Regions from separate parts of the Homo sapiens genome. Here all the other regions are linked to region 2. Evidence: fine-mapped expression QTL. A gene starts in region 2. Each other region holds a variant in brackets. All regions are shown on one strand. Distances are between the middles of the regions.

What was found.
Region 1: its variant is fine-mapped to the expression of FIGN in subcutaneous fat (TwinsUK, PIP 0.95).
Region 3: its variant is fine-mapped to the expression of FIGN in visceral fat (GTEx, PIP 0.92).

Annotation. Positions count from the first base shown.
Region 1 is chr2:163,610,616-163,621,773 of GRCh38, reverse strand. FIGN (fidgetin, microtubule severing factor) reads left to right here. Exons shown (of 3, transcript NM_018086.4): 3 at 9,968-11,158. Among named protein-coding and RNA genes, the nearest start is that of FIGN, 120 kb to the left of the region's middle. RefSeq lists an enhancer at 1-250. The variant A/G (reference allele first, on the strand shown) is at 6,179.
Region 2 is chr2:163,730,012-163,741,169 of GRCh38, reverse strand. It overlaps FIGN (fidgetin, microtubule severing factor), which reads left to right and starts at 5,162. Exons shown (of 3, transcript NM_018086.4): 1 at 5,162-5,332; 2 at 6,098-6,267. The coding sequence starts at 6,243. It overlaps LOC107985957 (a long non-coding RNA gene), which reads left to right and starts at 7,229. Exons shown (of 2, transcript XR_001739759.2): 1 at 7,229-11,158. RefSeq lists enhancers at 3,523-4,038, 4,039-4,555.
Region 3 is chr2:163,686,183-163,697,340 of GRCh38, reverse strand. All of the region lies in intron 2 of FIGN (fidgetin, microtubule severing factor), which reads left to right. It overlaps LOC107985957 (a long non-coding RNA gene), which reads left to right. Exons shown (of 2, transcript XR_001739759.2): 2 at 1-11,158. Among named protein-coding and RNA genes, the nearest start is that of FIGN, 44 kb to the left of the region's middle. The variant C/G (reference allele first, on the strand shown) is at 5,474.

The sequences.
Region 1 (11,158 bases), 120 kb after region 2:
GAAAGAGCCAACCGCGCTAATGACTGGACCGTCGTTCACACTGCACCTTAACAATGTTCAGTCTATCTGGAAATCAGAGGATCCCAATTATACGTGGTGCTCAGGTCTATTTCACCAGGTCTATTTCACTAGAAGGGGGCAGGGTGGGGAAAATGAAGAGGTGAGGAAACTACTGCTGTTGCTAAGAGCTTCTCACTTTTAATCCTAGGCTGTGCTGGTTGTATTCTAAATCAGTTTATCTTCTTACAACGTCTTATTTGGAAAAAAACAACACGTAACCTACCAAAACTCATTTCATATGTAGCTTTTTCCACTACTTTCATATCAAAGTTATTTTCTTCAGGCTGGACTAAATTATACACAGGTCCCAGGAGTGAAGGACACTGAATTAATGCACTATGTCACCCAGCCCTGACTATAGAATTTTTTTTCGAAGTCCAAGACACTATTTTGCTATTGCATTAAAAATTAATGCACGAATTGCCAAAAAGAGAAAAATGCATAAATAACCCAAACAAATTTTGTCTGGGCTTTGCATACTTTAGAGTCACCTAAAGCAAAGTTTTTAAGGAGAATGGTTGAACAGTTTTACCCTCAACATGTGAATAACATTCTTACTCTTTTGTCTAATTATATGAGACAGTGCTCAATCTTACATAAGCAGACTTATATATCTATTTTGTCTTATGTAAACTGTCTTTTTAGAGTATGGTTCCAGAGGAACACAGAGAAGTAGATGAATGCAAATTTCATTTTAAGCAAGGTTGTGGGGTTTGGAAGATTTCTTAATTTGTTTATTGACCGTTTTCAGCTTGGTGTGTTGGGCAAAACATGAATAGAGTTCAGTTTAAATATAACTAAATTGGGCTTTGCATTTAGATAGTTGAAATGGAACACACACACACACACACACACACACACAAATATTTACACAGAGTTATATGTGCACCTAGTGGTTAGTATACCATTTTAGGATTATGATTGATGAAATATACTAGCCATGTCATAATTCAAGGTTGGTATCATGCCAGATGTTTCTTAAATAAAAATGCAAATATATTTTGTACGGCAAAACAGTATTTTGAGAATCAACTGGAATAACCTCAGACTTTTAGGATGATGATAATTATTATCTCTGCAAAATATTTTAAAAAATAAAGATTCAAAACACTCAGAAAATGCAAAATACTTTTGGCATTTAGTACTCTGTTTATGGATCAATCATACAGGCTGGATGCTATGAATATAGCATGGGGCTCTCAGGTTGTGTTAACCCCATTTATCCCTGCATGCTACAGCTCACCTGTTATTTACACACATAAGAGGGTTGATACTGCAGAACAAGGGTAGTGCTCTGTTGTGACACAGAACATACATATTCATTAGCCACTGCAGTCCCTATGGACATACGTGGTATGTCCTGATGATCTGGGGGGAAGGGTAGATGGCCTTAATGGATTGAAAAATGTATACGGAAAAAGGAAAGAGAGGGCATAAGAAATGAAAGGCTGCAAAGTAACAACTTTAAAGGTTAACTACAAAGTGCTATTTAAACTGATTATAAATTGTCTAAAATTCACAGAGGTAGCATAAACAAAATAACAGTTTTTAAATATGGGAAAATCAGCCCTTTTACCTCAGACTCTTTCCCTTACAATAGTTAATGACACCTGACACTTAGGAAGATTCAGAGTGTGAATTATTTGTATATTTTAAATTGCATGTACACGCATCCTCATGTATCCTTCTGAATAACTTACCATAGAATATACACAGTTTTGTACACTTTTTTTTACTTGGTTTTAGATTATTATTCAAAAATTTTACACAGAAACATTTACAAAACCTACCCCCTACCCCCACACAGAAATCATAGATCTAAGTTATAATTTTAAACTATGTGGATTTGTGTGTGAGCATGATAATATGTTCACTTGTATACTTTAAGTATAGGAAATTTTAAGGGAAAAATTACTTGTTTGAATTATGATCATGATTTCCTGGGTTGCTTTAAATGATATGGTTTCTGTCCTGATCATATAGTGAATCTAGGCTCAGTGGTCTAAAAATGATATTTCTTTCATCACTGTAATTTGCTTTGCATAATGCTTATGCATTCATTCTCATAAATGCAAGCCATTTTATTGCATATTAAAAATAATGACCAATCAGACCCATGCATATCAAGTTTTATCCACCACATGAAATTTTGGCAAAAATAGTCACCGTTACACTTGGTCATATTTGTTGGGTGAATATTTTCTTGCTATGGATACAATTTAATGCATTGTAGAGAACCCAATTCAGATCATAAGCTACCTACAAGTTTAGTTTAAACACAGAGTATATATTAATACCATCCTAGTCCAAGTCATGGTGCCTGTAACATTAAATACAGGCTTTTATGAAGCCCAAAATAAAGACATTTAGACAACAAGATCTGTTGCTTACCTGCGTACCATCTACCCAACAACTTTCTGTAGGAAATAAGAAGCATAACTTTGGAGTAGCTTAAATAACCTTATAAAAGTTGTACTAATGCTCGTGTATTCAACTAATAGGAGATGCTTCACTCACTGTTAAATTAAGCTTTGGTTTGTGGTATCAAACATACAGCACATTAGGAATGGTGAAAATGGATAGGAAAATAGCAAAAAATAATATCTGACAAATTAGAGCAAAAGGGGGAACACTGAAACAGCATCTGAGACCAGTTTTTTAAGATACCATTCATTATTCATCATTCCACACTGTTGTACTAATGACACTGTATCAATAAGAAAGTTATCAATTATTTCCCACGTGTTGTGTTGTAAGAGGGTAGGGAGGTTCTCTTATCATAAAAAAAAGTATTTGGAAAATGTTTTTAACTTTTAGAGCTGAATACTTTCTAGATTTCAAGAAAAGGTATGTAAGTTAAGAAACTGGAGTTGAAGCTCTAAAGTGGAGTCCTAAATTTAAATGCCTGTGTGACCTGGTAGATACCATGAAAATACCTGACATTGTCAGGGGGTAGGAGCACCATGACAAAGTGGAAAGGGTAGGATATGCCCCAAGGAGGGAGCTGGTCCCCAGAATCGGACAGCTGTTGCCAGGCACGAATGAAGTGTTGTAAGATCTTGTCTGAAAAATGGGAAATATGGAAATACAGATTTTTTTTTTTGAGACGGATCTTTTAAAACATAAAGTCGAGTGATTTTTAAAGCCCTGTGCTGGCCAAACCAAACACAGTTGCAGGGTATATGTTACCCTCAGGCTGTCAGATTGCAATTTCTCTGTAAGAGGGTGAGGTATCTGAACTATATTTACTAAGACCCATTTAGCCAGAAATGCCTTCATAATTGTTTAAAAAAAAAAAAGCATTGTTTTATGCAAATACAATGGAATGGGTTGAGAAGGCTGCTGCAAAATGTATTGTAATTTGGAGTCTTGAGGTGTGAAAATATGATTTAAAGAGAAAAAAGTATTTGACAGTATTGTTATATAATTAGAATATCTTATTTTGAAACTGCAGGTTTTAAAATGAGTTTTAACTAGTCTTCAACCTCTAAGTACTTTATTTCTTAGTTTTAATCTCTAAAATGTTGAGTCACAGGAAACATCAAAAATAAATAAAATACTTTGAAAACATTTGAAAATGTTGACACCTTTTTGATTAAAGAGATTATGCTCTTTGTTTTGCTCAGAATGAGAGAATTTCTGTATCTTTCTTGGAACCAACAGTCCCACTGGAAAATTTCATTTACAGTTGCTGTCCTGAGGTTGAAGGAAAACTGACTTATAAATTCTGGGAGTGATTTTACTTTTTTTCTGTCTAGCCAGTGTTGTTTTGTTTTGTCTTTAATGCACCCCTGGCCTTTTCAAAATAAAAGAATACTAAGAAATGTTTGTGTAGCAGTTCACAGTTGGGAAATAGTTTCACAAAATATTATTCAGGTAATCTTAATAGCAATACAGTAAGGTGAAATAATACCATTATTGTCCACATATCACAGCTGAGTGAGTATGATGTGCTTAAGCAACTTAACCAAGATTAGAATAAATAAGTGATGATGTAAGCAATGCTGCCAGTGGTCTTATTCTACAGGCTGGAATTTTCACCGTGAAACAAAATTCTTGAACCTTCTTTATGTTCCTTCAGTCCCTTTCTATCCCAACAATCTATCAATGGCTCCAAATAAAATACTATATTATGCAAAATAGTATCCAATCCTATAAGACATCATTATAAGTGAAACATCAATCGAAAAGTGAGGATGTCTGGAATGGTTAGGTCATTTTAAAGTTCTGTTAATCTCTAAAATCAAAGAGTCTAATTTTGGAGAATTTAGACTGTGAAATTGTGAAAAAGAGAGTTGAAAAGGTTTCATCACCTTATAGAAAATGGATCCTCCTTTTTAGCATTGAACCACAATGCTTTGTACATAGTTCATCTTTTATTGACTAAATTTAAAATTTGACAGCCCCTCTGTTACATTCAGCTTATAAAATCTTCTAATTTTGGTCCTCTAAAGATGGAACAAAATTAGGTAAAAATGATACGTAATTTCAGTGCTTCTTCCTCACTTTTTTCCCTTTCTGTTACTTGTAGATTTTATGCCATATTTTAAAGCCAAGAATGATCGGGGAATGGGCTGAAGAAATTTCCAGATCAAATGAGTTAGTACTAGTAATACTAGATAATGCTGTGTTGGCCTCTTGGCTTATGAGGATGAGTAGACAAGGCTGCATTAGTCTCCTCAAACATTTCATTTGGTCATCACTCCCATTGAAGAATGATAATAAGTAGATATTGCACAGGGCCAGTTTGCAGTGCCAGGAGGTGTACAATCCTTCTTTCAGAAGGTTCTTCACTGCATAGACCTGTATTTTTAGCCAATGAATTTTCTACTTTCTACTGGAAATTTTGAATGCTCTGTATGTTAGTTCTGCCATTTCCAACCCAAGAGATGATAAATCTGTTGCATCAGAAAGAAGAGGCTGTAAAGTATTATAATTACTTTACAGTATTTACCCCAGTAGTGATTGTTTTTCAGAGAAACCCTTGCTAATATTATATTAATTTTTTTAATGTTAAAAAATAATGAAAGGTTCAGAGGTGCAATAGCTCAAAGAAATGTAATAGGTGTAGTAATGTTGTCATGCAGGCCTGTGTGAGTGCTATGCATCTGTTTTAGAGCAGGCAAACCTGCCATGCCTGCAGGTGTTTGCCTCAGGTCCCTGCCCTTAGGAAGTCTGAGAAAACCTACAAATGAAGGCAGAGCCCCTAGCAGCCAAAATTACCCTATGGGAACATTGTAAAAGGGAGTAACTATTTTAGACCTGATGAACTGTTGAATAGTACACGTATATAAGGAGTGGGTTGGGTAGTGAGTGCCTCACATTGATATTTCTATGAATATATGCTAAAAACAGATTCTAGAAGACCTAACCTTTTATTTCCAATTTTCCTCTCATTTTGAAAGTTGCTTTTATACCCTTCATTTTTCTATATTACTGTTTAAAATTTTATAGCTGTGGCAGAACTTCAGAGGATGCTATAGTTGTTTTGTTTCGAAACTAGTTAAAGAGCAAAATGGAAAAAGTAAAGCAACAAGGCAGTAACTGGTTAGTAATTAAACCTAAGTTATCAAATGGTCAGTAATGGTAAGAATGGCAAATGTTATCCGTACTATCCAGTTATATAGGAAATATGGATTTGTTCATTTATATATACATGGAGTCATCCCATAACAATAAAATAAGAACAATGCTCAGATGTTTTACTCTAGTACCTGTCATTCCTATGTAACACTTAAATTATCTTAAAAGCAATTTTCTATTAGATTGTGTATTTTCAAAAAACACGTTGCATGATGAAATTTGCCAGCTGTATTAAGATTTTTCTGATCCTTTCAAAAGTAAAAATTGATGTTTTGCAACAATTCTTCAATTATCTTTAAAAACTATTTTTCTTACTTTCCACTGTTTTCTGAATTTTTACTGTACCTATTTAAACTATTTCCAAACAACAGTAGGAGTTATTGTTCTAAAGTCATGCTTCTAATAATGTTAAAATAGTATTGTTTCTGAGATCCATCTCCATGTTCTGAAGAGAAACCATATAAAAGCTGTTTTTAAAACTCAACCCATTATTTGAGTGCCAAGTTAAGTGACACAGGTGTATTGCTTCTGACTC[A/G]CACATAATTGCAATACAGTCAAACAAAGCAGGATGTTTTTGTTGTTCAGAAAACATTTGGCTCTGTGGTTTTGTTCCATTTCATATCAGAAATAGCACCACCAATAAACACAATAACAATAACAACAAAAAAATAAATTTGGTTACCAATTTCCAGTTAGTGTTAAAATTCAAGGAACCAACCAAAAGGCTCTGTACTTCGAAGGCCAAGACAATCTCCTGAACACTGATTTCCTCAGCTCCTGCTAATATCAAGAATTAGTTTGTGGTTAGATTAGCTTATGCTTTTAAATAACATTAATGATTTTAAAGCACTGGATAAATTCTCGTTTCAGGGGATATGAACAAGTCCATTGCCTTGTATTTAAACAAAATACAATTTTGCCTTTTGCAGCTCTGCAAAGGTTATTGTTATTTACTATGCATCAATAAATAATCTTTCAATTATCTTGTAAGCACATCCAAAAATAGCATGACAATCAAAAGGCAATGGTGTATCCAGTAATTGTTCCAAATAGATAATTTTGATAAATATGATCTTTGCTTAATTTCAGGTAAAAAAGAAATCTTACGAAATTTAGTTTTGCTAGACTTAAACCATGCAAAAATACCCTATGAAATGGACACTCTATTTAAACTGTATACTACTGTCTTTTACAGTGATTATAACTTATTAAAATCATTTTTTCATCTCTTGTATGAATAATATATTTACAAGAAAACATTACTTAAGCTAATACAGGTGGGGGGTTCCCACCTCCTGTGTTTTTTTAAAAAAATAAGCAGTTTCATTTGAGTTAAAAAGTATATTTCTTTATAATATTTGTTATGTATGTTTATTAACTTATGCTAACAATGGCTTAGCTCAGCAAACTGAAAGGAAGCCGTCCTTTAACTTATGTGTGCGTACGTATGTGTGTGTGTTGTGCTAAATTCCATTGCCTGTACTTCTAAATTATTTGTTGAGCCCTTTAAGACTTTTTTTTTCACGTTTTTCTGTATCAAACTAATCACATTTATACTCACAGCATATGTGTGTTCTTATTTTCTCTACTCTGTATTTTGATAATATTTTAAAGAAAAGAACCATAATAGAAATTCCCTAGAAATAATTTACAGGACTAATGAATTTGTAGGTCTCTTAGACAGTTCTACATTACAGTCACATTAATATTCTCTCCTTTTTATAAGGCTTGAAGTAAATCCCACGACACTAGAAGCATTTAGATACTGATTACTTGCGATTGGTTCCTGGTGATTTGCTCTTAATAATTTCCAGTTGAATTTAATGAAAGTATGATTCCTGAAATGCTGCTTCATTAAAATTGCAGCTTTTCCCCTTTAAGTGTGGTTTCGGTCATTTCACCCATTTTGCGGTGTGTTTTCCTCCCCCTTAAAAAGTAATGATTGAGAAAGCAGAAATAATTAAGAATACCACTTTAGTTCTCCCTGGAACTCATCCTCAGAGTTTCTCTGAGTGAAATGATGCAAGCTGCATTTCATCAGGATTTTATAATACTATTTTCCCATTCAATGAGATTATTTAATAATATATAAAGTTTTAAAACATAAATATGAATTTTGGGGGTAGTTGAGGGAAATTGAAGAAAGAATCTGTTGCATGTACAAGAGAACTGAGGTCTTTAGAATTTTTACTAATATGTATATACATATATTTAGGTTGATTAAGTTACACTGTGCAGCATTCAGACTTAATTTAACTGAGTTGTGATTTGCAAATGAATATCTACATGGATCCTTTTTAAAAATCAAAATGCAAATGAGTACAATTGCAGTAAAATATATTTGCAAATGAATCCTGTTGCTTTATTCATTTATTGTGTAATTACTGCAATCCTTCCCACCTTGTTTTCAGTATTTCTTAATCATTAAGTCGGAAGCATGACAGCAGTGCCAGCCCTGGCATGATTCTCTTTGACTAAAACCTTGTAAATTAACACAATTAGCACAGCATCATCCTGCTAATTAACTTCCAGTGTCTGGTGCAGTGGTTTTGCAAACAAGGAAGAGGGAGTCAGAAGGGAATCAACATGCCATTCTGTTACCAAACTGTGTGTTATGTTCAGTTTATCGCAGTAAGTCAGAGCCGGCCATGTCAGAAGCCAGAGTCAGGCAATGAAGAGCCACAGAGCTTGGAGGAAGAGCACAGAAGGGGGTAGAAACTGACAAAATAGACTGTAGTAATTCAGAAGGGGGTTGATGCCACAGATGCTTCATGTAGACCAGGCCTCCTCCTTATCAAGGCATCTCTGCCAGAGGGCACAAGACAGTTTGCAAAATTCACTTTGGGTAATACAAAAAAGATGAAGGAGAGATGCTTAATATAGCTGTACCAGAATAGGAAGTGTTAAACCAAGCAGAGATTAGACTGAGATGAGCCAGCAATGGGAAAAAGGAGAACAGGGTACCAGTCCTCTTCTGTAACTAACTGTATGTGAGACCTCGAGGGTACATTATAAATCGCTTTGGGCCCTGGTTTCCTAATCTGTGAAATAAAGTAATTTCTAAAGTCTCTTTACAATTTAAAATTCAAATTATTCTGACTGCTTAGTATTTTTTTCTTAAATGAGAAAATGCTCATTTTGTAGTTTGCTACATAGTCAACTTTGCTTCACTTAGTAACCCAGCAGATGATAGAATTACCCAGACCATCTCATTATCTACTTGTACTCCTCTAGCGTATGCCCTACGTGGTTTCCTATAGAAATTGAAAGAGTTAGAATCCAGAATCTCTCTCCATTCTTATCTTCCCTTTCCCCTCAGTTTCCTTTCTCTCTCTCTCTCTCTCTTTCTCTCTCATATATAATATATATATATATATATATGAAGATGTATAAGACAGGATGTGTATAAATACACACACACACACACACACACACACATTCTCCCCTCTTAGTACCTTGCAGGCTGTAAGGGGAGGAGGGATTATAAGAGAAGGAGGGAGAACGCTAGAAGACCGACAGACAAGTGATGCTTGTTTTTTTTTTCAGAGACTCAACAACAGAACTGAGAGGCAGAAAGGAGCCAGTTGTAATTCATACCGAGTTGTAGGCTTTGTGCGATGAAAGCGATGGAGCGCTGCCTGGGAGATTGCTTTGCTGCACTCCACGAAGCAGATTTGAAACTGTCGTGGACCACTTTAGATGAGAGTTGGATTATGGAATGACCTGCTATGTCTGTGTCATATTGTTCTGCGCAGGGAGCATTATACTGTGCTAACTAGGTGTTCAGTACCAAATAAGAGAGGTATCCTAGATGTGATCTGTCAGCTGTGTCTCATTTTTATATTGCTTAAAATGTAAAACAAACTGTGATGTGAACAGACAGAATAGCTAGATATTGTACATGTTAATACTGCCATGTGCAAGATATTTAAAATGTCTGCTTATTTTAAGAACCTATGATTGAATTCTAATTTGACAGGAATGTGTGTGTACATATATATGTGATTGTGTATGTGCGTATAGTAGGTAAGCTGATGGGCTTGACAGAAATAGATTTACTTATTCCTTACAAATGCAAAAAATATAGGTAACTACAGAGTTATATTTTAAACTCAGTGTGCTTTTTAAACAGGGCTGAAGTTTAGTCCATTTTAAAGAGTACTTATTATAGGGATCATAATAGGTATTATAAACAGTGTAGATCTTTTAAAGTATGCATATCATTAATGGAAAATAATAGGTAACAAAAGAAATTGGGGGAAAAGCTTTAAGAGTTCTGATGCCTATTTAAGTAAATTAACTCTTTTCCCCCCAAAATTCTTAGGCTTGAAGATGCAGTGGACGCCAGAGCATGCCCAGTGGCCAGAACAGCACTTTGACATCACCTCAACCACTCGGTCTCCTGCCCACAAAGTTGAAGCCTACAGAGGTCATCTGCAGCGCACCTATCAGTACGCCTGGGCGAATGATGACATATCTGCTCTGACTGCATCCAACCTACTAAAAAAATATGCAGAGAAGTATTCCGGCATTTTGGAAGGTCCTGTGGACCGACCCGTACTCAGCAACTATTCGGACACACCATCAGGACTAGTGAACGGTCGGAAAAATGAAAGTGAACCCTGGCAGCCTTCCTTGAATTCAGAAGCTGTTTATCCCATGAACTGTGTTCCGGATGTTATCACTGCCAGCAAAGCTGGAGTCAGTTCAGCCCTCCCTCCAGCAGATGTCTCTGCGAGTATAGGAAGCTCTCCTGGGGTAGCCAGCAACCTGACAGAACCTAGTTATTCAAGTAGTACCTGTGGAAGCCACACTGTACCCAGTCTTCATGCAGGGCTCCCATCTCAGGAATATGCCCCAGGATACAACGGATCATATTTGCATTCTACTTATAGTAGCCAGCCAGCACCTGCACTTCCTTCACCTCATCCGTCTCCTTTGCATAGCTCTGGGCTACTACAGCCCCCACCACCACCTCCTCCGCCACCAGCCTTGGTCCCAGGCTACAATGGGACTTCTAACCTCTCCAGTTACAGCTATCCGTCTGCTAGCTATCCTCCTCAGACTGCTGTGGGGTCTGGGTACAGCCCTGGGGGGGCACCGCCTCCGCCTTCAGCGTACCTGCCTTCAGGAATTCCTGCTCCCACCCCCCTACCCCCCACCACTGTTCCTGGCTACACCTACCAGGGCCATGGTTTGACACCTATTGCACCGTCGGCTCTGACAAACAGTTCAGCAAGTTCTCTCAAAAGGAAAGCTTTCTACATGGCAGGGCAAGGAGATATGGACTCCAGTTATGGAAATTACAGCTATGGCCAACAGAGATCTACACAGAGTCCTATGTACAGAATGCCCGACAACAGCATTTCAAACACAAATCGGGGGAATGGCTTTGACAGAAGTGCTGAAACATCATCCTTAGCATTTAAGCCAACGAAGCAGCTAATGTCCTCTGAACAGCAAAGGAAATTCAGCAGCCAGTCCAGTAGGGCTCTGACCCCTCCTTCCTACAGTA
Region 2 (11,158 bases):
ATGTATGTTGAATTATCCCAATTAATTTAGGCATGGAGGAAAAACAAAGATGGAAGATAATTGCCTGCCCTCAAGAAGCTCAAAATCTAATGCAGGAGTGAAAGACATGAACACCCTTAAAATGATGTGAGGGTACAAAGAGAGAAAGAGAAATAGAGTCCAAACAGGGGAAAGATACTTAAGTGCCTCTAGGAAGGTTGGGGTGTGGGTTGGAGGAGCTAAGTGCTGAGTGTCTTAAGGGAGTTCGCCCACAGAAGCGGAGAGGAAAAGTCAATTCAGGCAGGGGGCACACTGTCAAGCAAGGCATAGAGAGGAAAAACAGCACAGTTTATGCAAACTATAAGTGGTCTGTTTTATTGGTGCATAACAATTGCTATGAGAAGGCCAAGTGTGGGGGCTCACTTCTGCAATCCCAGCACTTTGGGAGGCCAAATCAGGAGGATCACTGCGGTCTAGAAGTTTGAAACCACCTTGGGCAACAGAGTGATATCTGTTCTCTGCAACAAATAAAAATTAAAAAAAAAAAAAAGAATAGATTGCTGTGACAAAGTCTAGAAAAACTGTCCTGTCCTTCACAAAAGAACTCACAATTTCCTCTAGACAGAACTCCTTTATAACTGCACTTTCTATCATTCACTTTGGGCTATATTTATCTGGCTTCATCCATAAAATGTTAAGGTCACTTTTCTTCAAATCCTCTGCAATTTGTAGTGTAGTACTTTTAATTATATTAAGCATTGAATACTTTCTAAATGAAATTGAGAACCATGCAAAATCAGGCAAAAGTTCCAGCAAATATACACACACTATAAATATATGTGAATTTAAAAATGTAATACTCAGGTTAATAGAAGAAAGCAAAACATCTTAAGTGAACCCATCACAGGATTTTCCAGTTTGTCTCTACTGTAGAGCTAGATCACTGAGGAGATGTATGAACCACACTAATATCCTTTGACAGTACCTGCATTTGAGTGTCATTCTGAGCAAATTGAGTAATTTTACTCAATGAGGTCATGATCTTCACTAGCTTTTGTGGTTTTTTTTCTTTCTTTTTTTCTTTTTTTTTTTTTAGGGGAAAGGGTGGTACATAAGGACTTCTTAGTAACTTTATTGAAGTGAAAATCATGACCCTTATACTGCAATTTTATGGAAGCATTAAAAAATTATCTTGTCACTAATTTGCATTATTGTAAGAACTACCTCAGATTTTTGTGAGTAATATGAAAGAAAAAGTCTAGTTTCATAAACAGCTACTAAGTTCTAGAATGTGTTTTGAAACCCAGGAGTTTGGAAGAATATATTATTAGTTTAATGTTTTATTAAAATATTTAACATTTAAGTTCAAAACTAAAAAACAATATTTGAAAAATTAAATTGAATTGCGTTTAGCATTTTATGAAAAACTATACATGATAGCCCTCCAAACTTCTTTCCTTAAAGCATCTTGTGACCTACATCTCCCTCATCTTTTCTACCCGCTGTCTACCTTCTGCCTCCACTGATTTTTTTTCCTTTCCTTTCCTCTCCCATCACTTAGGTAAAGCACATCTCTGTGTCCAGCCTAGCTCATATTTTCCTTAGTCCAGTGCAGACAAGTCTATGGTCATTTGCAAAATCACATTCAGTATCACTTTGCTTATTCCCTTAACCTTCACTTTTGTTGTTGTTGCTTACATTATTTTGAGAAGAAAAAGCAGAAAAAAGTAGAATTCCCCTCTGAATTATCTTGAAAGGAAGGCATACACACACACACTCCTGAAGAAGAGTTATGTTGATTTTTCTTCTGATTTTCTTAAAAAGCACAAGTTTGAGTATACTGTGTATTAGAATTTCACATATTAGTCAAAATGTTATGCATTATAATGTCTGTGCATTTAAAAAGTAAAATAGAAAGAGAAATGATATTGCTAATAGAGTGGGAAAAATTAGTCAAATTTATTATTTTCTGAAATAACTGTTTCCCTGACTAGCCAATCAACTTCCTTTAAACACTCAATATTTAATTCTCATGTTATATCAAGAAGTTTCAAAAGATATTATAGAGATGGATGTCAGCTACAGCCAGAAACATTTCTTTTGATTAAAAGTTTTGAAGATAAATGCATACAGAATATGATGACTGTTAAAGTGCTTTTTAATCATACCACATAATTAAAGATAGTTTTATTAAAACAACAAAAACTGAACATCGCAAACAATGCCATGAATCTCTGTGGAAAAGAAAGTCAAGTTTTATTTTCCTTTGCTTAAAATAATTGGAGAAAAGCAACTTTTACCTATACTTAAAAAAAAAGGGAGAAATAGTGCAATGACGAACTCTCCTGTGTATCTTATTATTATGGAAGTCCCATAATGTATATTCTATTATGTAAGTGTCTTTTATTCCCAGAGTATATGTAATTTTGAACAATTTAGAAACTCTGTACCTCTATCCAGTGCTCTTTTGAACAGTTTTCCAATTATTTGATTCCAAAGTTAATTATATTTATTTGCATGTTGAATGATTTTTTTATAATGTGTATTTCAAATGAATCTATAAGGGAATTGGAAAGGTACAGTTATTATCTATTAATAAACTCTTGCTGACCACACTTTTTCCTCCTCTTTTTAAAGAGCAGGGGTTGTTTTATTTTAGATATTACAGATGAATGGCTTTAAGTCTGTCATCAAAATACATTGTTTTTATATTCAGTGGGCACTGTATTATATATTTTATTCACTATTTGAATTTACACAAGGAACTGTAAATTCAACGCTAGGATTTAATGTTAAAGGTTGATGAGCTCTGAACTTTTTTAACAAACAAGAACAGAGCAGTTTTGCCCGAATTGCACAGAGCATCTGCTGTGTGTCCAGAGGACTTTTGGTCGTCATTCCCCAAATGGGCAATAACTGCGATTATGAGCGCTTCACAGTTTTTTTTTTTTTTTTTAATTCATCTGTACTCAATCCAACAGTGACCCACAGATATTTCCCTACACTTATTTCTTTGTGGTAAAATCCAATGAACAACTTTTCGTAATATCATTTTCAAAGCCATCTTGTAAAATATAACTAAAGAGGTTTCAGTGTTCTCTGTTACATCAGAATAAAGTTCTTCTGTTTTATTTCGAAGACTCCTTTTTTAAAAAATTCACAGAAAGGTCAAATCCATTCCAAATAGAAATCTCATTGCTTAGAAATATTTCTTAGGATCTCGAATCACTCTTTTTTTGTCTTTTAAATTCTGTCATCTGCCTAGATTTAACTGAAATAATTTTTATTTCTCAGTGTGTTAGCTAAAGGCATCCATTCAAAGGTAAGAACATCATAAAAGGTGAATGGAATTAATTTCAAAGTATATATTTGGCATTTTTAAAGAGCTGCATTTCAGCATCTGGAGAGCTGCAATTTAGGCTATCAAATCTACAACAGAGAAGCTGGGGGAAATGTGAACACCCTTATGAGGAGGGTCAGTCCTCAGCAAGTGCATTTTCGGTTCCAACCTTCAAAGGTAACATTTTCAGCTTGATGGGCTCCTGGTGGAATATATAATTTGCCTCTTTCATTCTTAGCTTCGTTGAAATATAGAAGACTGGATGTCTACCAGGCCAAAGTATAAACTCACCATTTATCTATTAAAGTCATATTTAATGAAAACGAAGAGAAATTATGACCCAATTCACTCTCTTTCTCATTACAATTCCTAAAGAACTTTGCCGGGCACATTATCTCGTAGACATCATGATCAAATGTTATTGTTTGCTTTATTATCTCAGTTGGATGGTTGGCTAGTCTAGAATGAAATAGGTTGAAGGCAATACTCTCAGCCTAGAAGTCTGAATGAGGTTCCCATTCAAATGATCCTGATTGTTTGCGGGTGGGGCGGGGTGATTAGTAAACCAACTGAGCTTACACTGCATAGTAAGCGTCTGGATGCCGCACATTTACATCTAACAAGAGACCCCAGAAAACGTGTGTGTGTTTCTTAAACCTTATGTTCCGAACAAAAGGCTATCTCAGCAACAGACAATCAGCACTGCATTGCTCCCTGGGATGCGAGCAACACACTCAACTGCACATTTCATTCTTCCTCGGCTCCCAGCACCACAAAGCCCCTACTCTCTTCCCACTCCTGGGTCCCCAGATTACTCCATAGAGGGGGGTTGGGAAGGCAGAAGCCTAACGTCTATGCCTGCGCACCAGCCGCCGACACCAGGGCCCCCCGGGCGCTGCTTTCTCCAGCCCGAGCCGCCTGGGGGAGGTAGGGAGGGGAGCCAGGGAGCGCGAGAGGGGACCGCACACCTAGACACTTAGGATTTTATTTATTCACAGGGAGGCGGGGGAGGGGAACTGGGCGAACGCGAATTTTCTCCCCGAAGTTGCCTCTTCTAAGCAGATCAAGTCGTTTTCTGGCTGGTGCTGGGGGCCCCGGGGAGGGTGCCGGTGAGGTCCAGGCTCTCGAGACCAGATCCCGTCCCGTGCGCAGAGGGGGTGGGGAAGGGCGGACGGGCCGCAGCTGTCGAGAGGGCCGGGAACCGGCAGGGAAGAGCCCGCGGGCCGGGGAGCAGCGCGGCTCTGTCCCGGGCCCTCCAACGCAGGCCGGGGAGCGCAGGGGCCGGCTGGTCACGCGTGGGAAAGAAAGCCCCCTTCCCCCTACGGCGCTGCTCCCCTTTCCCCAGGCTGGGCCGCCAGAGAGTGCGTGCAGGGAGAGCTGCGAGTCCCCGCGCGCGTAATCATGACCTCGGGGCCCCCTCCGGGCCGCGTGAGCGCATCGGCGAGGCTGGGCGGCCGCCGCGGCCCCGGCCGTGTAACATGACCCGAGCGGCCGGCCGGCCGGCGCGGCGCGGCCATTGAGCCCTCCCTGCCCATGAATCTCTGGCGCGTCTCTAGCTCGCTCGCCGGCTCGCCTCCCGCCTCCCTTTCTCCCCCTCCAGCTCCGCGGGCTCCGTGCGCCTCTCCCTCTCCCTCCTGGTCCTCCCGCTGCCCGTCTCTCTCCACTGCCCGCCTCTCGCCACTGCCTCCCGTCTTCTCTCCCTCACGGCAGCCTCCGTCTCTTTCTCCCTCTCTCCTTTGAAAACTGATCTTTGGCTCTTAGTGTGAAAGTGATTTGAATTTGGCTCTGCGGCGCTCTGCGCCTGCGCCCAGCCTCTGGCATGCTGGCTCCTTCCAAGCAGCTGTTTTGGGTTTGAAATTCCAACATGGCAGAGGCTGCAGTCCGTCTTCCCTTCAAAAACTTGGAATGATTTCAAATCATAGGCACCTTCACTTAACCCTAGCTTCCATTCATCAGCAAACACATCGGATCGATGCTACGCTAACCTATCGGGTTCTCTCTCCGCGCGTTCAGGTAAGAGGAGCTTCGTAGTTTTCTACCATCTGTTTAAATTTGTTTTTGTTTTATTTTTAAAGAATATAAATACATCCAAGACCTGTAATTAAAAGAGATCTTCAGTTGTGCCGTAAACATTAAATTCAATTTCCACTCGTTTCTATTCTGTACGCCAACCTGCTGTCTAATTTCTCTGTTCAAAGTAGCCCTGAAACATTATAATGCATATTTTTGCTGCTTAATCATTGTAACAATAGTATGGGATTAAGAGTTCGCGATTGCAAGAATCTCGCTTTTCGCTATATTGGGCTTACTTATTACTATCTTTTTACTTCAAAAATAAAAAAATAAGAAAGCGGAGCCATAGGGTGGGGCTAGACTTTCTTCGGGAACTAACTTCTAAGTAAATAAGAAGTGTAAATAAGAATCTTGCACACACACAAAAAGTTGAGGTTAAATTACAATCTCGTGGCTGGGGGAACGAGAAAATGTCAGAAGATCGGTTGCAGAAAAATGTAAGCACATCATCTAGGAGGGGGTACAGCGTGGTGGGCGTATTGTTGGCAAGGAACGGGAGAGAAAGATGTATAATTTAATGGTATATACAATCCACTGATCCTATTACCGTCCTCCCCGGAGCTCTTGTTAGTTTCAATGGGAGTGAGTGAAATTGACATGGACTTGCATTCCTGGTCATGTGCTTTTTTTCCTTTCTTTCTTCTCCTGTGATCTGAGATCCCCTTTTTGTTGATGTTGCTTTCCCCCTTAATTATATGCATGTAGGTTAAATGAATACCTGACGAAAGGGCCCACGTTTCAAGGCAGTGACATTTGATAGCTGAGAGGAAAAGTGGCTTTAATGAAAAGCAACCTTTGGAATTCCTGCTTGTGAGAAATCCAATTCAGCTTTTTGTGCTGCCAGCAAGAAATGATCAGTAGCACCAGTGTTTATGGTATGTCAGTTTTGGAATTTACTTCCTTTGCATCTAAATAGGAAAGACAAATGAAATAGCATGATAAAACCATTGAAGACTGCCTGGCAAGCAGTTGCTCATGATATAGAATTCCTTTTTTTAAAAAATATATGTTTAATGTCACCATGCTTTTTTTTCTTTTGCTATCACTTGTTTGTATATTGCAGTTTTGATTAATATATTACTTGAATCCACTTTTATCGGTTTTAGCTGTCATCCAGAAGTTGCACGTTACTAGTAATGCACTATATATATATAACTGCTGAAGTCAAATAGTATGTAAATTAGTTAAACTCAGTGTGGGTTTTTTTTTTTTTTTTTTTTGAAGGAGGGAGGCTGGGCAAAGGGGAGAGGGCAGGAGTGTTGGGAAAGATTACTAACTAATGAAAGTGTATCTATATATATGTACACACACAGGAACAGGACTGGATGAAAATTTTATTTTTCTCAATCTATTAATGCAGTTTGACTATCTGCTCTTGATGTTTGCACTTTGTGGAGTAATCAGTTCTTCTGAGTGTGGTTTTTTTTTGGGGGGGGCGGGTAAGTGAAGAGGTGTCTTTTACATGAAAATAAAAATTATATTTTGATTGTCCAAAGTCCTTGATGTCTTTTAAAGAGTAGGGATAGGTTTTTCTTCCCCCTTTCCATTCACTCGTCTGCCTGTCAGCGCTTTTTACTTTTAACTTGTGACAGAATTAAATAATCAGGCACTGAAATTGACTTCGTTTGAAATCGCTCTTTCCTTTCTTTACAAAAAAAAAAAGTCAGTTAAATGGAGTGAGAGGGGATTTTCAATAGCTCTTGTGGCAGTGCCCTGTGTACACTTTGTAATATTCAATTAAGACAGAGGGAACAACAACAACAAAAAGATGTTAAAGTATTTTGCATAACCAAAGGATATGTCCACTTTAGACTGTTTTTTTTTTTTTTTTTTTTGGTTGTTGCTATGTTTACCCCATGACCGTTAATTCCTCCTGAAAAGAGAGAAAGAAGGAAAGAGAGAATATGAAAAAAGAAATAACAGTGGGGCAAAGCTGCCAGGGGTCTGTAGTGTGGCCGTGGTCACTGCTCTCTCCTAACACAAATGTGAATACGAAGAGAGGAACTACAAGACCCGTTGCGCGACATACACGTCTGGTTGGACTCTGGTGACTATTGAGCTAAATACACACCACACTTACACGATAGGAAAGATTTGATTGAATTTTGCATTTGGAACTTGTTGACTTTGAAGCGATCAATAAGAAGACTGTTTATTTTAGATGCACATAATTTGCCCTGAGAAATGTTTTAAGGAGGAGAGAGCACAGCTTTTTTTCCCCCGGAGCTGTTGGAGCGAATGGGATTGCCAGATGGGCGATTTCCCTCTGTGATGTTAAAGCTGTAATATATATTCAGAGCAGATTGGGCTGCTGCCTGTGATGAGGAGGATATTACATTTATAAATTTTAAATCGGAGCTCGGACAATGTGCTGAGAGCAGAAATTGGATGGTTTGACTGTTCACCGTATTGATACTTAAATGTGATTTCTAGGTAGTACTAATAATAATCATTGCAATAATTCATGAAAAACATACTGGCATAGGCAATTATATAATTCATGACATTTAACAGCAGATTTGAGTGTGTAAATTGCCCCCCTCTTAAGTCTCTGCTTACTATTAAATAATAGTCACATAATTCATTTCCCTATGTTTAAATGTCCGATGTGCAAATGATGTTAACTTAGGAGCCTTGTTATCATATATTAGAATTCTAGGGGTGAAAGTTTACATACATATATATAAAGTAGACACTTGTGTATATGTATAAAGTGGCGTTACTGGCTCTTGTTTTCTAATTCTTTACTCTGATTATTTTTAGATTTTGTTTGTCTCAAATGTGCGGCCTAAAGGAACCAGAGCTACAAACCTAAAAGACTAGAAAGTGGGCAAGTGCTCACACTCTGGCAGCTCTGCTGTTGCAAATTAAAAGTGTGTTGTGGTCAGGAAATGAAAGCTACAATGTCTCTTTTGAACAAGTCGTTTATCAAGAGAAACATCTATCAGGGACTGCCTTGTCACATTGATCCTCTAAAAGTTAGGTCCGAGGTGGAAGCTGCTTTGATGTTTTTGATCCTAAATTTAATACAACAGAAAAAAAGCAAGGATATTTTGACCAGTATAGATTTTTAAAAATGTTTCCTGGAACCAACAAGATCTATTTATTAGGATTTCACTATGTGTGAAGTTTTCTGGACGTAACAGTTGAAAGGTTGAAGGGGAAATCCCAGACTTTATAAATTGATGATTGTTAGAATATACATTTATAATATATTTAGTGATGGCTGGCTTCTTGGTGCACATGGAATGGACGTTTTGAACACAGATTGTTCAAAAGGAAAATTATTTTGAAAGATTATTTTGGAAGAATATGTAGAGAGTCAAGAGTTTTTCATTCAAATTTTAGTTATCCTCTTCTGTTCTTCCTCTCTTTTACTCCTTCATGCTTGTTTCTTATCTTCATTATATTTGTGACAAATTAGCTTTTATTTGGAAAAGAAACATTATTTCTACAAAAACCATGTCCCAAAACATGCTTGTACACATCGTCTCTATTGTTTATTAATTGTGCATGTTTATGGTTATCAATATAAACTGCATGGACACATAAGTCCTTTGGAATTTCAGCTTAAAAATAGAGGTATCAGATTAAACATGCTATGTGTTCTTGAATAATGAATATGTTGTATGCATTATTTAAAATTGAAAAGGTATTGTTAGGAAAATGACCAAGTTGAAACAAAATTGTGAAAGCAGTTAGAAGCAGCCTGCTTCATTTTGGGAGGCAAAGATAGGAAAGAAGTGTTTCTTCTTTAAAATAGAGTTTTTGGATACTTGTCTTACACTGCTGGAGGCAACTTGTTATTTCATGTGGGTCTATCATCAAATAAGCAGGGAAGAGTAGGGTGGGAGTTTTGAGAAGTGTAATACTTGCTAATTAATCATGTCTGAAATGAAAGAATCATAGCAGGGTAATAAAGTCTCATTGTTGTTTTCCTGGAAGAGGGTAAGACTTCTGTTTGGAAGCTGTATGTGTGAGTTGATTTGCTTTTCTCTTCTCCTAAAAACACAGTTTATAGGGTCTCTTTGGAATTATTTCAAGAAACATCTTTTTTTTTTTTCTGAAAATAGAGTATTTTTCTTTCTCCTGGCTGTATTTCATCAGTAAGATTCTTAAAACAGTATCTGATATCTTCTGAGTGAAAATAGGGGGTTTTATTCTTTAGTTATATTTAAGACTCCTGTAGCTGAGTTTCCAGGGCTGATATTTTTTTCCTTCCCATAAATAGAAAATATTTTTTGTTTTTGTTTTTATTCATGTTAGGCAGGAACTTTGAAAACCTTTTTGTAGGTAGTTACTTCTGATAGATATACAAGAGTGCAGAAATTTCATTAATTACTTTTAGATGATAATATAAGAGTGTAACCAGAGAGAAGAAAATAGGTAGTATTTCCAAGAATCTATAGAGACCATCTGTATTATTACTTTGCATTTCTAAGATAGTTTAAGATATAAACCACCTGAAAAGATAAATGGGTAATTTCATTATAGGTTAATTATTTTTTCCTGAGCTTCTGGTTGTCACCTTTTAGAATTTAGTATCTTACTCAGGACATTCATAGGGACAGATCCACAAAGTTTGAGAGTCTGCACTGTTTTTCAGAATGTTCATGTCAAGGTGAAGACAGCCATGCTAATACTTCCCTGTTTTTGTCTGTGTGAGTGTTTGGATGCCTTGAATGATTGCCTAATTAAGTAATCACTTTTAGTGGCCCAAAATCAACAGAATTACTAGATGTATTTGAAACAATTGCAGGCTTTTAAGGTTTGAACTTTCTAGTTCTTAGAACCTTGGTTTAATAGAAATAGAAAGGTGCTATTTTACCTTTGATCAATATATTCTTGAGTGCAGATTTCACATACTACTCTTTATAAAGTACTGTGTTCATTGTTGAAGAGCAAATAAATTTAATTACCAGGAATTTAAATTGATTTATAAATTTTTGATTGGAAGAAACTATTCTGCAGATGTTTGTGTGAAATATTGACATATGCTACTGATCGATAGAACTTGATTAATCAGCATATCTGCTGTTTTTCTTGAGTCATTGATAAACTAGAATAAACAAATGGTTCAGAAAAAGCTATAAATTTTAACTCTCAATAAAAAATAAATGTATGTGTCTTTCTTTTGAGATATACAAGAGCTAGTGTTTTATTGAAATCAACTGAACTTAGAAATTATTTGGGGGTACCACTTAGAAGCTTACAAGTCCCAAAATTCTGCCTTTCAATTCACACACACACACACACACACACACACACACACAAACACGGAGCAAGAGAGAGAGATTGTACCTATATTATTGTTTATTGAAAATGAAAGAATTTTTTTGACACACTGCAAATAAATGGCCAGTTTAGCAAGTGCTTTCCATGGTTGGATTTTGTCATTTTCTTCTTTTTTTCCTAAACTTGAATTTTTAGCATTAACTTTTTCATTTAACTTCTGGCAGAAATTTTAAGCATAGCTGCTTTGGTATGATTGCTGATTACTAATCTTTTTGATATTTTTGATGTTATCATTTAAATGGCAATTTTCTTTCAGAAATGTTTATTTTAAAAAGTAAAATAGCAGGAATAAGGAGTATGAAAGAATATACTCAAAATAAATGGTACATTGAAGTTCGAAGCAAATCAAAAGCAAGGGGTATGCTAAGTTTCCTTAGGGCAGCACCACAGGTGCCTGCTCAGAAGCGCTGCCTCAATACAGCACATCCGTAAGTACCTGTTGACAACAGTAGTCTTAGCTAAGATACTGAG
Region 3 (11,158 bases), 44 kb after region 2:
TCACTTGAGGCCAAGAGTTCAAGACCAGCCTGGCCAACTTGGCGAAACCCTGTCTCTACTAAAAACACAAAAATTAGCTGGGTGTGGTGGTTCATGCTTGTAATCCCAGCTACTCGGGAGGCTGGGGCAGGTGAATCGCTTGAACCCGGGAGGCAGAAGTTGCAGTGAGTCAAAATCCTGCCACTGTACTCCAGCCTGTACAATAGTGAGAACCCGTCTCAAAAAAAAAAAAAAAAGAAAGAAAAGAAAAGAAAAAAAATTATGACACAATGTGCTTAGTGCTGTGTCAGGGAAAGCATAGCCCTTTAATAAGCGCTTAAATTCTGTTAATCCTCTGTATCTATATCCTAGTCTCCAAAATGGGGATCATGGCTGGGCGCTGTGGCTCATACCTGGAATATTAGCACTTTAGGGAACCAAGGTGTGGGGATTGCTTGAGCCCAGGAGTTCGAGACCAGCCTGGGCAACATAGTGAGACCTTGTCTCTTAAAAAAAAAAAAAAAAAATTAGCCAGACACGGTGGTGTGCAAATGTAGTCCTAGCTACTTGGGAGGCTGAGATGGGAAGATTGATGTAGCCAGGGAGATTGAGGCTGCAGTGAGCTGAGACTGGACCACAGGACTCCAGCCTGGGCAACAGAGCTAGACTTTTTCTTAAAAAAACAAAACAAAACAAAACAAGACAACACAAAAACAATAAAACAAAATGAGGATCATAACACTATCTCACAGGATTATAAGAAGGAATAAGTGACACAGTGTATGTGAACTTTCCTGGCACTCTCTCAAAATTAATGTTGAATCTCCACAAAGTGCTCTGAGAATATGAAAGAGGAGGCAAATAACTCCTGGATACTTGCAGCGATATTTCATCCAAGAAAGTGACATTAAAGTTGGGCCTTAAGTGATAAGTAAACGATTGTGAGGTGGGAAAACAGGTAGAATAGGTTGCTAATTTCTAAGTCATTTACTTTTTTCTAGTCTGTTTCATGGGGTACCAGGAAACACTCTGAGGTTCAGAAGCACCTCACCAGATTTACTCCTAGTTTTGTTGAAATATATGATTGTGTTATACCACCTAACATCTGCTCTTATTAAGAATTTTTTCCTACCTAGGAAACTATTGTTACCATTAACAGTCTTCTTCTTTTTAGATCACTGTTTCTTTTCATGTCTTTATTCAGCTTCTTCATCCAAAAACACTGTTTTTTTTGTTTTGTTTTGTTTTTTTGAGATGGAGTCTTGCTCTCTTGCCCATCCTGGAGTGCAGTGGCATGATCTTGGCTCACCGCAACCTCCACTTCCCAGGTTCAAGAGATTCTCTTGCCTCAACCTCACAAGTAGCTGGGATTATGGGCACATGCCACCATGCCCGGCTAATTTTTGTATATTTAGTAGAGACCCTGGGGTTTCACCATATTGGCCAGGCTGGTCTCGAACTCCTGACCTCAAGTGATCCACCCACCTTGGCCTCCCAAAGTGCTGGAATTACAGGCGTGAGCCAATGTGCCTGGCCGTGCTATTTTTTAAGAATCCAAGATGTGCTAAGCATTTTGCTGGGTGGGAAAATGTCTTTGTCTTTGAGGAACTTACAGTCTGTTGGGTAGACAACAGACTTGTGAACAAGTAAAGCACAGTGTGAACTACTAAGTGCTATAATTACTGGGAATATACATCTTAGTTTGCCCAGGATGGTCACAGTTCATACCTGTTGTTCTAACGTAATTACTAATAGTCTTTCATTTTCAGATGTGTGCTGATTTGGACAACAAATTTTATGGTTACATGAGTTAAAATATGTGTGTGTGTGTGTGTAAGATATTTTGCATGTTGACTGAAGAAATGACAAGCTCTAAGGAATCAAGGATGATTTTCTTAGGAAAGGTGATATTTGAGCAGAGGCATGATGCCGAGGGCATCACTAATAAGAGAAGGTGGGGAGAGGAAGGGAGGAAGTGCATTTTACATGAGCTAGAGATGCAGATGGGCATTAGGTAGTCAAGAGGCAATAACAAATCACAAGTTCCATGTGCCTGGAACATTGCTGGGTGGGGGATTAAGTAGTGGGAAAATTTTGTAGGCAAGTAGGGAAGAATGAAATCAGAATTTAATGATTGAGGAGCAAATGAAAGTTGAGGAAGTTGAGATGTCAAATATAGACACCTTCTAAGGAATTTAAGGAAAAGAGTGACTGTGGTGATAGTTTGAGATGAAGAAAGATAAAGTTTGGACATTCTGAAAATTGACAGTTAATGTCAGAAGAGACAGAGACACCGAGCTCAAAACAGCAAGGGATATGTGAGACAATGAGATCTCAAAGGAGGGGGGCGGAAAGTGCAGTCTGGGGCCTGGGAGAAAGGGCTAGCCTATGAAATAGAGAGGTCAGAACAGCTGGGTGTGGTGATGAACACCTGTCGTCCTAGCTACTCAGGTGGCCGAGGCAGGAGGATTGCTTGGGCCCAAAAGTTGAAGTCCAACTTAAGCAACATAGCGAGATCCCCATCTCTAACACAATTTTTAGAAAGGAAAAGAAGGACTGTAAGATGATGGAGGTAGAGAATTTACAGGGTAGGATTGGGGGAGTATCTAACCTGACATTTTCTTTGTTTGGTGAAGTAGTAAAATGATTGAGCACAGCCATTAAAGGACATGGCCAATATTTTTGCTCTTAATGTAGATAATGGCTATATGATCTTGTCCCAGTGACTTTACTTTCCTGGACCTCAGTTTCTTCATATGTAAAGTAAGAGACTGGATTGACACTTTCTATGTTTTCATCCAGTTCTAAGATCTGGTTCTGTGTTTTACTAAAAATGTCATGAGAAGGCAGTTCCCTGCATCCCTCACACCCTCCTTCTTGCTTGCCCCATCCTGTAAAAGAGAGGATTCCATTGTCAAGTAAGTTAGGGTTATGGTTAATTGGGTTTCTTTACAATAGGACCTCTTAGAGCCCCTAGAATGCTAATAGGTATTATGAATATTGAAGAGGAGGTTATAGTACACATTTCCCAAACTGATTTAACTGTATAATCCAGTGTTCCATAGAGCATACCATGAGAAACATTGATTTAAGCATTTATTCTCCCTTGTCATTTGTAAAAAATTCTATCCCAAGTTGGTGGGGGCAAAACAAACATTTTGAATGGCTGTTGTCTCTGGTGAGCATGCATCTTTGCTTGGAATATGACGTAGTTCCTTCCACTATCAGAATAAAAAGCTCCACCAAACCTAGACCTACAGAATATTGATAGAAATAAAACATGCAGCCCCGTCTAGGCATGAGATGGTGGCAGAGAGCTGCTGGATGCTCCAGCTCTTCCCTTGAACAAGCTGAAAAGAGAGAAAGACTTGTTTACAGCTCTCAAAAGAAAGGCTGAGAAGTACAGGTCCTGTGTTACCTGTATTATTTCTAAAGTTCCGGAACAGCTAAGGAAAGGAAATACAGAGTAATGTGGCTCAGTTTGTTTGATGTGGTATTTAATCCTTCTGGTTTATAATACCATCTAACACATATGTTTCGTATCACCTCAGATATATTCCAATATGATATTTAATATATTTAGAAAAGAAGAAAAATCCCACTGGCAAGAATGAGTTTCTCCCAGTTATGAAGTAATATGTTTTGTTTTTACTAGTATTCCCTAGCACATATGTGTTCTTTTTCAGTTCTCTTTTCTAACCCAAATGATTATTGTGTGTGTTTGTGCGTAAGTGTGTGTGTGTATGTTATCTGTAGGTTTCTTTATTGATGTAACTACTCTAATTTTGGTTCCTTTAAATTGTGATCATCATGAGGGAAAAGGAGTCCTTCCCTGATAATTCACATTTTGTAATGCTTTGTAAAGTGAACATATAATTTCAACAGATATGCTTTTTTGCTGATTCACTCATGAGTCTTTATATTGTGCAAAGCCCTATGCTAGGCACTGGAGAAAGTGAGAGAATGGGACCCAGTCTCTGTCCTTTTTCTTGTCTTAATCCTTCTCACTCTTGCAGTTCCTCCTCAGGATCCAACCCCTTGCTCCTCACTCCTCTGGTCGTTTTAGCTATCCCTTACTCCACTGAATACACACACACAGATACACACACACACCACAGGTACACACACACCTACATCCCACTCTTGACTAGATAAAGGGCCTATGCCAGTTGTGGAATCTGCTTAGAGGTTGAGGCAAAAGTCAAGGGGATTTGCTTTCACTTGGAAATTAGAGGTGTGGTTTCAGGTGGTTGGTGACCAGTTCACATAGCTCTGGTTCACTCTGCCCTGCTGCCTGGAGTTGCCTTCAGTTTCCTTAGGTGAAAATGGGTCATGGGAAGATGCTGAAGTTGCGGTTAAAGGAAGTACCAAGGCGCTTGCCTGACTCTCTTTAGACCTGCAGTTCTTTTAGGGACCACCTATTGCATCAAGGTTGAGCAGAATGTTGCACACATATGTGACTTCTTTTACTTTTTCTTCGCAGATTCTTAAATTGTGTTTGCCTTCTTGTCTCCCTCACTCTCTCTGGTACAGAGGTCGTAGGTTTCATTTGATTACATTTTCGTTCTCTGTTAAACTAGGCTGAGTCACCTTGCTCCACACAGCTATTTAGAATTTGCTCGTTTGTTTTTTTCTTTTTAACATCTCCACTGTTAAAAGTTAATGCTTTCTCCTTTTATTTTCACTGACTGAATGTCAGAGGACTTAACATTAATAGAAGTCTGTCTCCTCTATTACCTTTCAGGAATAGACATTCAAACCCTTTCGGGAATCATAATCTTCAGTAGAAAGAAATCTATAATAGATTGACAACTTTTTAAACATCTTTTCCTAATACTCTCATAGCTTTCAATTTGGACTGTTTCATTTAATTGAAGAAACATTATTAGCATCTTTGCCATGCATAAAAATAGATTATGTTTGAAGCATATGAAATGTTTCTAGCTCCTTAGAAGAAAATACATTAATATCATATTGTTATATATTGTTGAGCTTGTTTTTAACACCTTACTTAGGAGCCTAGCTATAAAATAATTTTAACTATGAAAGGGACCAACACCTCCTACTGGTACTTCCAGTTAATCTCCTGGATGCTTCTAGAAAGACTGGCCCTATGCCTGCTTCTTACTGAATCATGTTCCTATGTATAATATTTTATCCAAATAAATGACAATACAAAATCCTTTTACTTAAACAAGTTTAGGACTATAAAATATTTCAATTCATATTTTAATTTTAATAATTTTGTTCATAGCTTTCAGTAATAAAGCAAAATGGAACATTTTATTTTTGTGAAGCTTATCATTGTTTGCTAAGACAGTAATGTTAGAAAAATAATCTTTTCCCTAGGCATAACAAAACAAATGTTTAAGATAGATTTGATTGAGCATTTAAAATTTTTAAAGATGAACTTGCTTCTGGGTCTTCACTTCTTGGAGAGAATCCTTGGGAAGAAACTTAAAAAGATTTGGATTTGTCTTTTCTTTGGACAGAA[C/G]ATTTTGTTCTTTATTCTAATTGCAAATTCCTCTGGCCCTGGTTATAGCACATATTTTCCTCTTTATTCCACAACTTCCACTCTGCTTTCTGTTTGTTTTTAATGCTCAGAAGGGTTAATTTTTGCCTCAATTCCTGAAAAGAGAAAGTTGATTGCCACTAATCCATTTTAGTGTAGGTAACATGAAATATTTGTTAACCAAATTAAATCTGGCTGAATTGAAGTGCATAACCACTCATGGAAGGATGCCACTCTCTGACTTACTGGTGTTAGTTTCTCTTGGATTAATTAACATGTTGTAAGATAGTCTAGGCATACTAAAGTCACTGTTTAAAATAGGTCACATCAAGTAGCAGAGTATGAAAATGTCCATCCTTATAAACCAGGGATGGCAAACTCAGGTGCCTCCTGGAACTAGATTGGTTAAAAATGAGTGAAGGAGGACAGGTAGCAAGATTGTTCCTCGTTTGTCACCATGAAGCATCAGCAGATTGTTGACTTGTGAAAATAAAGGCAGAGGGTTGCCATATTTTCTTTTCTTTATTTTCTTTTCAAGATACAGCAGATACCCCATTTTAATGTAATTGTATCAATTTTTTAAATTAGGCAACTAATCAAAGATTTTACAAACAGTGTGCAGTCTGTGTTTTGTACATAGGCTGTCAGTTTGTGACCTCTAGAAACCCCATCAATTTGAAAGATAAATTTAGTCTTATATTAAAAACAAAGTGCACAGTGTTCTTAATTCTGTGGTCAGTGGCCAACGGTCCATTTCCTTTGGGAAAAAGTTTATTTTTGAGTCCCATGATCCTCACTCTAAGCAAAAGACTGAAAGACTATTTGGGTTGATAATTTACCCAACAGCATATTGAAAAATGTTAAGTCGGAAGTCAGTTCCTCATACTGTCTGGTAAAATCTGCAGTGTTGGTGTGGACTAAATCTATAGTTTAAAAAATGTTTTATAGTTTAAAAAATCATGAGAAGGCCTGTTAGGTAAGAATGCCCCCCACCCCAACACACACACACAAATTCCAATGACTTTAAAATTACAAAATTACATTTTTGGTATATCTCTATCTTAGCAACACTGTATTCTTTTCCATCTCTTTAAAATGTGCCACAATTAAATACACATAAAATAATCTTTTATATATTTATATATACTTGAGCCACCTTTCAACTTTTACTTCTCTAGATTACATAATTCAGACTTCTTTAATATTTACATATATCCTGTTTTATATATTTTTAAATGTGTTCTGTACTGTTGCCTAGACTAGACTGGTATTGTTAATAATCATACTAAATGCCAATGCATTATATAACTGCTTTATTACATCTTATATATTGTGTGTATTTATCTAGATTAGATTGCTTTTTACAAATGGTTCTATCCCAAAACAGCATTAGTTTTTGATTCTCACCCAGCTCTACGGCTTTTTGACACATTTGTTTCTGCTGCTGGAGATTGCTAGTCCATTGTGTTATTTCCCCATAAATGTATAAATGTATACCGATACTTTATTTGATTTTTAAATTTATATTGAAGATATAACCTATTGTTTTGAACTACAATTATGTCCATTCCTGAGTTAGCCACACCAGCTATCCCTGGTGTCATGTCCTGTTTGAAATTAAGTATCATGTGTTTTTCTTTATTGAAGGCAGTTAGCTCGAGTGTTTAAGAAATACTGGCCTCATCCTTGGGGAACACTGTAGTAGGCTTCCTTGACATTGAATCATTGGTAACTGTTCTTTCATAGGCCCAATTTGACCATCTGATTTATGTTGTATGTATCTTAACAATTGAGGGGGACTGACATAACTGGAAGAAAAGTGCACATATTTTAATGTTGGCATCACCCAAAACAAGGACATCTTTAGCTGCTAGATTGAAATTATTTACAATTTTGCACTTACTTTATGGTACCAAGTACAAGTATTCTAGTTACACTTGTGGTTTTAGAGAGTATTTGCTGCTCATTTGGAGTCTCAAATGCAAAATATAACCCTGTAGCTATTATGTGGGTTTGCGACACTCCCATGGGGACCTTGGGCTCATAAACCAGCGAATGGATTATATAATGCTGCATAAATGCTGTATTTTTCATCTGACAGACATAATCTTGATCCTATATTTTTATGTTGCCTAACTGCTTCAGAATACCACTTTTGAAGCAACCCATCAAAATGGAAATTGCTTCTAAAACATGTAGCAATAAATATTGGTCAAGGCTCTGTGTAATTCAGATTGACTCAATACTTGAACACTACTCGATTGAAATTCTCTACTGTTTTTAAATAAAAGGTTGATAATTTCCATTTTATGGTATTGTTTGATCCTTTTCTTTGTTAGGCATATATTTACTTTGTTAAAATTAAAATTTTATTTTCTGATTGTCTAAGGCATGCCTGATAGTCAATCAAGCATTTCAGTAGGTATAGATAAAATATTGAGAACTTACATTGAAAGTTAAACCACATATGGATCAAGACATATATGTGATATAGATCAACAAATATATGTGGTACCTATGAAACCAGATGAGCATCACTTTCAAACTTGCAGTATAGAGCTCTGTGTCTAACATGTTATCTGAAAGACTTGATGCCAGAGCTATGATTTTGCTCCAGCCTCTCATAATCTCACTCTCTCTCTGTGTGTGTTTCTGTGTGTGTGTGTGTGTGTGTGTTCATTTTTGTTTTTGAGATAAGGTCTCAATCCATCATCCAGGCTGGAGTGCAGTGGTACAATCATGGCTCACTGCAGCCTCGATCTCCTAGGCTTAAGTGTTGCACCCACCTCAACCTACCAACTAGCTAGGACTACAGGTGTGTGCCACCACACCTGCTAATTTTGTATTTTTTCAAGAGATAGGGTTTTGAACTGGCTGGTCTTGAACTCCTGGGCTCAAGGGATCTGCTGGCTTTGGCTTTGCAAAGTGGTGGGATTACAGGCATGAGCCACTGCACCCAGCCTCATTGTTGTATATTATCCGATGTGCTATTTGCTTTACAAATAATTGTTATACTCTGCTTGTCCTTTACCGAAAACATGACCAAAAACTATCTGATATTTACTATCCAATTTTGTTGAATAAAAGAGGAATCCAGAGTTGTTAACTTTGGCTTTAGGTTCTCCCTCTTGCGACCAACTTTGAATTATCTGGGCTGGGTAGTCCACAAACAATGTGTTCATGTTGTCTCCCTCTTACTCACAAGCCTTCTGTAGCTCCCAACATTCACTGCATGAAGTTTAAACTCCTCTTCTAAAACTATGATAACCTGGTCTCATCTTCCATCTAAACAGCGATTTCTTTTTAACTTTCACATAGATATACTGTACACACATTTCTCGATTTTTGCCTTTGTCTATTCATTCCAGTCTGTCATTTTCTAGTGCCAATATTAAGGATCATTTTATGATCTTACATGTAACTGTTTTAGACTGCTGATCTCCTTCACTTCTAATCTTTTCCACCACTTTATCTGTAACATTCAATATAGCTCTCAATTAGATTATGTCTTCATTTTGTTTGCTATTTTATAATGTGATTGTCAGACCTAGGACCATGTCTTCAATTCCTGAGTTCCCACATTCTGAGCACACGATAGGTCTCATTGGATACTCATTTCACTGGTGATGGATCTCCTGGCTCTTTTACACAGAGTATCTTTTATAAGCAGGCATTGCCATAAAGACATTAGTTTTAAAATTCTTCACTTCAGTAAAGAGTGAATGCCGTATATATACATGTATCTTCTTTGTGAGGTGAATTGTGTGCTTTGGTATTTTCTGGCAAGTTTTGTCAATGGAGACTAGTAAAATAAATCCTTAGAGATTTACTGAACATTTATTTTGTGACGTATAGTTGACGTGTAATACAGTTTTTACTGAGAGTTAATACCTCACTTTGTAAAGCATCTGTATACTAACTCCTGGCTTAACTGTCAGGGATGATGCCTTTTTGTGGTCCTTTGTTTAGGAATGTTGGTCTTTGTGACCCAAGATATGTGAGGACATTCATTCTTGATTTAACTTTGCATGTTACTGTTCATTTTTATTTCTACTTTGAAAAACAGGAATTTTACTAAAAACAGATTATGAAAAATGAATTAGCATTAGGATAAAAAATATATACTTTAAAATTTAAGTTTGCATTGTTAGTTGCCATGCAAAACATCTTGTTCCCTAGGTAAACGTGTACTTAATCAAATGGCAAGTAGAATAAAATGTAAACTAATTGCCTCTGTGACTAAATTCTCTATTCTTGACTGTCTTCCTCAAGAGTAATTCTTTCATGTGAAGTCAGTTGACCAGTCTCAGTTACCTCATTTTGGAGTGAAGTCTAGTACTCTGAAAAGGGAAAGATAAATTATTCTTTGGGGAGCAATGCAGTTTACTAAGCTGTGTATGAGGCCTGAGGTCAGGTGACCCGACTCTGTTCAAATTGTCAAAGGCAAGTGTCAATTGACAGTGTGTTCTGCTCTCTAAACTAGCACTCAAAGCCTAGTGGTTGAGCTTTCTGTTACCATTTCTTCTCCACTGCTCTGGAGAAAGGTTTTGTTTGTCTTGCTGGCTACTGCTAGTACCCATTTAAAAAGTTTAGACACAATTCCTTCAATATTATATCTAGAAAAATCTAGGGTGGTCTTGGAGGGCACAGGAGAAGAAGTTAGTGATCCCCTGACACAGTTTTATGGCTTTGAATACCATTCTGTTTCTTTTCTCCTCTAACTCTTCCAAATGCCTCTGAGAATCATGATATGAACTTTATCATTTTGATAATACCAAAAGAGATGTCTCTGGAAGCATGTAGCTGTGCATGTATGTGTGTGTGTGTGTGTGTGTGTACACAATCTCACACATACATCATAATATAAAATGTGTTAATATTAAGTAATGACTGATTATTTTAAATAATAACACTCTTTACAAATACATACGTCTTCTGCCCTTCAAAGCACACTTGGCCTCCTGCTTGGAAAGTGCTTTCTGTCTAATAGCACTTTCTTCTGATCATCTTTAATTTTGGCAACACTTATCACTTTAAAAAGAATATATATATATGTGTGTGTGTGTGTGTGTATGTGTATATATATATATACACATACATACATAAACACAGGTATATGATTTGGGAAAATAGCTAAATGTCACTGGGAGCCAGGCCTAGTAAATGAGATACTGTTAGAATTGATTCAATAAAATTGATAATATTTGGTCTCAAAACCAAATTGTAAGTATAAAATAAAACTAGTGTGCTTGTGTGTTCCTAACTAGGACTATATGTGTAATGTGATAATCTACATAAGGCAGTTTCGCCCACACTTCTCACTTCTTTACCGTTCCCAACTCTGCTTTATATAGCAATGAAACTTCAGGTATGTTGTTGCACTGCTCATCAAAGTACCACTTTTAGAAGATTGTACTTGAAGAGTTTTTAAATAGCACTAGAAAGACTCTGCCATGCCACAGAAAAGCTTTTCGCCACATTAAGTGTACATTTAATCAACATTATGGCAATTATAGCTCTACTAGAAGTCCTTCACCCTCTGTTTTGTGGCGAGAACTTTGTCTAGGATAAAACTGTCATGAGTAGAGGTAATTTAAAATTCATCCTCCTTTTATTTATGTCAGAATATGACAGGGTGGGATGATGGATACCCATCTTTTTCTAATT